Linked DNA regions of Homo sapiens: region 1 is linked to region 2. A link means that fine-mapping ties the variant in region 2 to the expression of a gene that starts in the linked region. Tissue or cell type: nasal epithelium. Region 2 holds a variant in brackets; the other region holds the start of a gene. All regions are shown on one strand. Distances are between the middles of the regions.

Region 1 (4,247 bases), 22 kb after region 2:
CAGGTGTATGCCATCAAGCTGGGCTAATTTTTAATTTTTTGTAGAGATAGGGTCTATGTTGCCCAGGCTGGTCTTGAACTCCTGGGATCAAGCAATCCTGCTTCAGCCTCCCAAAGTGCTGGGATTACAGGCATGAGCCACTCTACCTGGCCTATTTTATTATTTTAGAGACAGGATCTAGCTCTTGTTACCCAGGCTGGAGTGCAGTGGCATGATCATAGCTCACCGTAACTTCAAACTCCTGGGCTCAAGCGGTCCACCCACCTCAGCCTCCCTAGTAGCTAGGACTACAGGCCTGCACCACCATGCCTAGCTAATTTTTAAACATTTTTGTAGAGACAAGATCTTTCTGTGTTGCCCAGGCTGGCCTTAATCTCCTGGCCTTAAGTGATCCTCCTGCCTTGGCCTCCCAAAGTGCTGGAATTACAGGCATCAACCACTGTGCCTGACCCACCATGACTTTAAAAAATAAAATTAGGGGTAGGGAGCTAGAAAATAAATAAATAAATAAAAATTAAAATTAACCTTGCTTTCCCAAAGATTTTTTGTTGTTTGTTTTGTTTTCTCGAGCAACATTTACATAGTTTGTAAAGAGCAAATAGGACTTAACTTTTAAATAAATAATTTATTGGAAAACTCCCTCCTTCCTACTAATACTTGTTAAAAAGCTGGTAGTAGCAATGGACTTCCCAGAACTTGGACTATAACTCTAATAATGCCCTCATTGTCTACCTACAAATTTAAGTATTCATTTAAATTATTTCATAATCTATAAATGTGAGAGCCCCGATAAGGAAATACTGTGCTAGACACCAAAGCATAAAAATAGAAGAGAATCCATGCCTTCAAGGAGCTGGCAGTTGAGTAGGTAGGGCACACAAGAACATACCCTAAAACCCAGTGGCATCAATGTCAGAGCAGAGGTGCTGTGTGTGGGTGAGGCAGGCAGCGTGGTGTGTGTGTGCACGTGAGTGTGAGCGTCCTTGAGTGTGTACCTGTGAGTGTGCATCTCTGTGTGTGCAGGTGCCTGTGTGTATAAGTGTGTCTGTGTTCGTGTGTACGAAGGTGAGTGTGTTTATGAGTGTGGAAAGACACACAGCCTGATTAGGTGGGTCATTCAGGTTTTGCTGCAAAGCCACATAGACCCATCTCGGCCTCAGCTGTTTCCAAAGCTGCCCTGCAGGCCGCCCCCTCCCCAAGAAAGGCCAGAGTTGGGACCTGGAGGTCCTCATGGGTGCGGCCAGCCACAGGAAGACCGCCCCGGGTCAGGGGATGACCTTGCTGGCCGGCTCTGCGTTGGCCATCACTCTTGAAGCCCAGCCCCCAGCCATGCAATGGGGCAGGGGACGAACCGTTGGGACCGACTTTCAGTTCCCAAATTTGGGATCATTTTTTCTTATGTGTTGGGGAGAGGAGGAATAAGGTGGCGGAGAGATCGGGGCCAAGTAGGGCCATTTCTCAACAAAGGGCCGATCCCTTGCCCCCTATCCTTCCTTTGGGGTCCAGACGCGCTGCAGAGAGAGGCGACCCTACCTGCAGCAGGGAGGCTTCGCCCGGAGCCTCCCAGACCTCCGGCACTGCAGACACTGCGCGCGGCGCGGCTCCCGCGTCCCAGGCTTCATTCAGCCGGCGGCCGCCCGCGCACTCTCCCTGGACTCTGAGGCCGGTCTCCAGGGTGACCTCAAACAGAGCCCTCGGCCCTCCCCGGCCGGACTTGGCCGCTGAGTGGCCCTCTGAGCTGCCCTAAGGATGTAGAGGATCTCATCTTCACTGCCCACTGGGGGTCACTCTGAGCCGGGCTGCGTCCTGGGTTGGCGGCGAGCTGGAGGGGAACTGGTTCATTGTGTAGCGAGGAAGACATTTGGGACTAAAGACATTTGCACCCCTAGGGCCCCTCATCAAGTTCCTTTTCCCGCAGACATCAGGGGCAGGAGTGGGAAGTGCTGCGGTTTCCTAGCACAGGAAATCCGAAGCGCAAAGACAAAGTAAAGTAGCCCTGCCCTTTTCCCGGCTCCTAACGCTGCTTCGCACGTTCCCCCTCCAAGGCACAGGCGGTGGAATGTGGAGGTAAATGAGCACTTACATTGGCCAGATACCCCAGATACCGACAAACATTGGGATTTAGTCGTCCCAATAACTCTGTCAAGAAAGGAATGTTTTCCCTTTAAAGGATTTGGAAAATTGAGATTCTAAAATGTTAAATAATATGCCCAAGGCCCCTGAAACTCATGGTCTTAACTCCAATGTGTTACAAACCGGGCTGGGTTCCTTCGCTTTCCTTAACAAGACTCTTCTGAGCCTGTTAATGTCTAAGAAGCTTTGAAATGAGGCTGTTTGGGGTTGAGGACCTACCTGCTGGTATGAATGGGCTTTTCCTCTTCTTCAGCGACTATCCCCAGCCTAAGCCTGGTTTGGGCCTCCCCAAACCAAAAGCAAACAAAATAAACACTATAGGGACCCTCCTGTAGTGGGCAATCATTGGAAGCAGAAACAAGATGCCTCCAAGCATCTAGCCAAGGGCATGGCTCTTGATGAGTGTCCTGCTGGAATTAGCATTAGCTGACAGTAATACATTGGGATTCCGGTGGAGCACAGTGTTAGGATAGTGTTGGAAGAAGAGAAATAGATATTTTTGCCCATCCCAATCTCTACTCACAGAAAGATAAGAACAGGAAAGGATTGTTGATTGAATATCTACTATGGACTAGATAGGAACTGCTAGGTGATGAATAAACATTATCTCATTGAATTTGTTCAGTGACTATGACATAGGGGACATTACTCTATTTTTTTTTAAGATAAGGAAATGTAGAATCGTTGAGTAACATGCTCAAGTCGATATTTAAATCACAGAGCTGAAATTTGTCTAACTCTTAACCCTTGACCTTTGACAGACCTTTGGCCCACCATCCCTACCCTAAACATGGAATGAAGTTTTCCAGAAATGCGGGTAAAATTTTAAGAGGCTGACAGCAAAAGATATTCACAATTCAATTTATTTTCATATTTTTCATTTATTTTCCAGAAAAAGAAATCACATTTCAGTAACAACTTACATATAGAATTAAACTTTGTTCTGGAATGGGAGCCCTAGTTGCAGTAACGTGTCATAATAAATAATTGCATATTCAGGATTTTGTGAAATAGGTGATTGGGAAAATTATGAACAAAAAACATTTACAAAAATTATTATTTACAAAGAGTGATATCCATACTATTTCTAACTTATAAGGCAAGTAATGTTAAGATGGTCTCATGATTATCTTCAACAAGTCAATTACACACTTTCCTGTCACCATTGCCCAGCAGAGAGCTTTGCTGCAATTCTGTGAAGGAGCAAGTAAGTCTTCGCTTCCGTTGTTGGTTTTCTCTTGAGCACAGCATAGAAGCAGTAAAGCTTTCATTACAGACTAAGCAGTAATGGCTGTCAGAAAAAAGTATACTCTTTTGAAATAGACGTGTAGGAAAAAGGCTGGGAATCAACATTTTGACTAAATTTTGAAAGTATCTTGAGTATTTTAATTCACAGTTTTGTAAGTATTTTATGCCCAAGGTATTTTTGTGAAATTATGTACTTAGTACAAGATTAAAAAGAAATTTAGTGTATTTTTGCTACATAGATCAAAGAGAGCTCTAAATAAAGGCTACCACCAAATCAAATTACACACAGCATTTTCCTTAATTGACAGGATTTCATTACCTATAGAAACACAGCAAAATCTTTCTGAGATTCCTAGATTCTTGCATTGTTCAAGTTTAAAAAAAATCAATGCCTTACATGGCCACTTAGTAAGAATGAAAATTAATATCCGAGTATTTAATTCATATGATCTTTTACTATACAAGTGAAAAACAAACAAAAACTCTTTTTAATCGAAAACAATAGTGTTCAAACAGCTTAAAAAGCCAGCTGTATACATTACTGCTTGGCCTGTGGTGAAGCTCTGTTCATAGATAAGATTAATATATCATCATATCAACACTTGGCTTTTTCAAGAAAAATTATTCAGCAGCAATTTTCCAATTCCCCTTAGACAGAGAGGAAAGAGACACACACACACACACACACACACACACACACCCCCACACACACACAGAGAAAGAGAGAGAGAGAGAGAGAGAATATGAATTAGATAGGAGCCAATCTCTTTCATGTATGTCCATTTAACAAAGCAAGAACTAAATTCTGACCTGAAAAATCAACACAGCTATATGAATTATCATTCTAGCAACTTGAAAAGGGAAAA
Region 2 (4,247 bases):
CCTTTCCATGCACTGGGTCCCCACTGCCATCCTGGCTCCTAATCCACTTGATATTGGCTAAAGCATACCTGCGTTTCCAGTGAAATGGTAAGCAAGCTCGGATTTTATCCTCCTCAGAGTCTAATACAATGCTAAAGGCATAAGAAATTTTTAATGTATGATTTCTGAATTTAAATAGAATTAAATTTTATAGATAATCATTATATATGATATATGACTGTATATTGTATACATATATAATAATGAATACTTTTTATTAAGCCGTTGCTACATGTCAGGCAGTGCGATAAGCACTTCATATTACCTTATATAGTCTTCCAATAGATCTCTGAGGTGAATCTCACTGTTATCTCCATTTGGCAGGTGGGGAAACAGAGATTTATATACATTGAGTAACCTGCCCAGAATCACACAGAGAGGCAGAGCTGGGGTGCACACCCAGGTTTATCTGATGCTAGAGCTTATATTCTCGACCACATTTCATCCACGTTCAGAGGAGAAGCTTCAAATGAATCTTCTTCCTCCTGCATCCCAGGAATATTAGCCATATCATCACTTTGGTCATATACTAATGTCATTGCATGACATGAACATGTGCCCAGGGCCTGGCATACAGAAGCCCAGTCATTATTTGTTGAATTGATAAAGATGAAGGAATGAGATCAAGAATTCTATTCAATTCTCTTTTAATATATGTCAATATCTAGTAATAAGTGTTTGTTTGTGATGACTGTATCTGTCAGGGTCAAATGAAACATATGGCACCCTATAGTTAAAATAATTCCAGGAGGAAGTTCTGAGTGGGCTGTAGAAAATCACAAGGGATAGTGCAGCACCCCTCAGCCAGTGAAAGTAAGGTTGTCAGCCCACCCCTCCCACCCCAAGATTGGGGAATAGAGGAAGAGCTTTTAATAGATCCCAGAAGGGTCATGTGGAGAGGGCTCCCTTGGGAGCAGTTTCTGTCCTTTGGTTGAAGAATGTAACCAGGCTGTGATGAACTCACAGGCAGGAGCCAGGGAAATAAACAGCTCCACCTCACACTTCTCACTCCCTCTGCCTCTCAGCTGAGGTTTCCCACTGGCTGAACTTAACCAGAAGGTTACAGCCTCTGACTGCAGTTCAGTTAGGTGAGCCTCTTGAGGTTCTATAAATCGTTATTTTTATTTTGATGATAATATAGAAATTGTTGAATTCCACTTAAATCGTGGAAGGGTGGGGGTGGAGATTGAATCTAGAAAGTGGTTCTTAAAGATCTCCCCATCATCTCCTGCGAACCCAAGCCTAGGGCATGGTTGATTAACCCAGGGTGACAATGCTCTAGGCCAGGACAATGAGAGTCTTTTTTTGGAATTTTTATTTTAAACTGCAAGTAGGAAAAAAGAGTCAGCCTCTTTCTGGTGGCAAAAGTTACCATGTGACTCTGAGGACCTGCTGGAGGACATGTTTTTCATGGTGGTAAGGAGGCCAGGCCACCAAAAGAGAAGAAAGTGCACATAGGTTAGTGCTGGAAAGAGGGTCCTGGTGGCACTTGAGTCTGTTTCCAGTAGTTCCCGTTGTACAGTGCTACCAATGTCCTTTCCATACTTCGCTTAGATTAAAAAAAAAGTCATTAACCAGATCCTGTTTTGAAAATACTTTGAAATATGGTAATGAAGTATTCTTTTCTTACTTCTTTGTTACCTTTCCCCTAAACATCCAGAATCATCCATCAATGTTCAGTTTCTGACTTCTGAAATAAGCTCCTAAAACTAGTTTCAGAGTAAACTGATGTGAATGGCAAAGCTTTTCTTCTTTCTCGAGATTTTTTTTTTCCTTAGGAGAAAAAACGTGTTTTAGAAATCAAAAGGCAAAGACCTGAAGGATCA[A/G]GACAAAAAAAATTTTAAAAACAAACAAAACTTGTCCTTAAAAAGTAGATAAAGATAAGTTTACTTAATGTATGTGGGCCTCCACTACCCCACATTGGGGTAATAATAATAATTACTACATTTTTTTTTGTTAGAATTAAATGAGACAATAAATTGAATATGTTTAGAACAGTGCTTGTCACACAATAAAACACTCCTTAGATATGTGATCTTATTAGTGTTATTGCTGTTATTGTAGTTATTGCATGCTGAAGGAAGAATTGGGGATTTACCTTGCTGAGAAGGCAGCAAGATGAAAGAGGACGTAAGTCTGGAGACAGTGAGGCCTGTGGGATTAGGAAGGACCCCATGTGGTGGTGTAAAATCAATGCTGAGAGATTGACAGGCTCTAAGAAAACCTGACATAGAGACAGGGCCTGAGCACTTCATGGAAGCTGAACTCAAATAATCTCTCTCTTTCTCTCTCAATATTTTGGATCTACTTTCTACTGTGCTGGCTTCATTCTCAAGGCAGGCTGTCTTGATGTGGTAGCAAAGATGGCCGCCAATCTAGTTTGGCTCGGTGCTCGCAGTCCATGTTTGCAAACAACCAGGTGCCACTATACTCAGTTCCAGAAAAAGTCCTGTGGAAAACTTATTCCATAATTAATATGAAGTTACAATGAATATCATGGAAGGCTTTTATTCTTAGTGATCTATAGTAAGGTCCTTGAGTCAGTCACTTTCAGGAGTAGTAACATGATGAATGGAGAGATTTAAACATATAACATCATTTGAGTCTCATAGCATCCATGTGATGTATAGACTATTATCCCTATTTACAAGTGAAGACACTGAGATTCAATGATGCTAAATACCTTGCTCAAGGAATTAGCAAAATTAGTATTCAAATTCAGATACGACAGATGCCACAGCCTGCATTTTCTTTTATATTTGTTTTAGTAATTAATGAGAAATATATAAATGGTATTTTATTAAAAGAAACACACTTTCCTTTTCTATTCCCTTTTCTCCTCTCATGAATGATACTCATGTTTCATCTCATTTTTTGTAGCTGTAATTATTTATGTAAATGCTCTCATTTAAGATGTGTTTAGATGAGGCAAACATTATTGAATGGAATGAAAAATTAATTAAACATAATAGTGCTGGTGATTGGCTGATATTTCCCTCTACTTTTCTGGCCAGTATTACATTGTAAAGATATGATAAACTATTTACCAAAGTCCCACTGATATAGTTTGGATATTTGTCCCCTTCAAATCTCATATTGAAATGTGATCCCCAGTGTTGGAGGTGGGGCCTGGTGGGAGGTGTTGGGGCCAGGAAGGTGGATCCCTCATGAATGGCTTGGTGCTGTCCCAGCGGTAATTACTGAGTTCTTGCTCTATAGTTCTTCCTCTATTAGTTCACATGAGAGCTGGGTGTTTAAAACAGCCTGGCACCTCTCTTGTTCCCTCTCTTGCCATGTGACATGCCAACTCTCCTTCCCTTCTGCCATGCCTAAAAGCTTACTGAGGTCTTACCAGAAGCAGATGTTGGCACCACGTTTCCTGTATAGTCTCTAGAACCATGAGCCAAATAAACCTGTTTTCTTTATAAATTACAGTCTCAGGTATTTCTTTATAGCAATGCAAAAACGGACTAATACACTCACAAAATACCTTTCATATGTGAAATAAACCCAGAAACAAGTAGAAGTGGAAACACAGTTTTGATTAAGTATTAATAAAATGGCTGGTTGAATGCTATAAAAAGGGAATTGTCAAGCATAAAATATTTTAATTATTAAAAAATTCACATAGACTATTGTAGGAAAATACAGGTATATTTCATCTATACTAAGCTTTTTCTAAAATTACTTTTCTAATGTGGTTCATACTCAGTACTTCTAAAACTGATAAGATGCTTTATTTGAGAAAACAAGTTGCAAAAAATATCCTTATGTAGAAACACAGAGATTCACATTTCACTGGCCCTGTCTTGTTCAAATCTGATTCAAACCCTTCCAGCATGCACAGTTCAAAGTCATAGACACCCCATGGCTAAGAACTTTTAGTTGCAAGTGAGGGAAAACCTGACCCAAACTTAGCTTGCCTAACTGAAAAGTTAAAGGGTAGCCAATTGGATTTAGGACTCAAATGATGACACCAGGATTCTGTTGTTTTCTCTCAGTTTCAAGTCAGGGCAAGGTGGCAGATCCTGCCAGAGCCCCTACATTCCTTCAAGTTTCAGGGCTTTATGTTCTTCTGCAACAGGCCAAACAACATTTTCTGAATTTAATCTCAAAGTCTTTGATTGGATTCACCATGGTTATATGCCATCCTAGAATCAGTCACTGCTCTATCTATAAAGCCAGTGCCAGCTTCATTAGAATGCTAG

What was found. PIP is the estimated chance that this variant, and not a neighbour inherited with it, causes the effect.
Region 1: DYNLT5 starts here. The variant in region 2 is fine-mapped to the expression of DYNLT5 in nasal epithelium (TOPMed, PIP above 0.99). The same link has a PIP of 0.9 or more in skeletal muscle and unexposed skin.

What each region holds. Positions count from the first base shown.
Region 1 is chr1:66,749,871-66,754,117 of GRCh38, reverse strand. DYNLT5 (dynein light chain Tctex-type family member 5) reads right to left here and starts at 1,659. Exons shown (of 5, transcript NM_152665.3): 1 at 1,534-1,659. It overlaps SGIP1 (SH3GL interacting endocytic adaptor 1), which reads right to left. Exons shown (of 25, transcript NM_032291.4): 25 at 2,979-4,247.
Region 2 is chr1:66,771,398-66,775,644 of GRCh38, reverse strand. The region is part of intron 3 of DYNLT5 (dynein light chain Tctex-type family member 5); the gene reads right to left. Among named protein-coding and RNA genes, the nearest start is that of DYNLT5, 21 kb to the right of the region's middle. The variant A/G (reference allele first, on the strand shown) is at 1,866.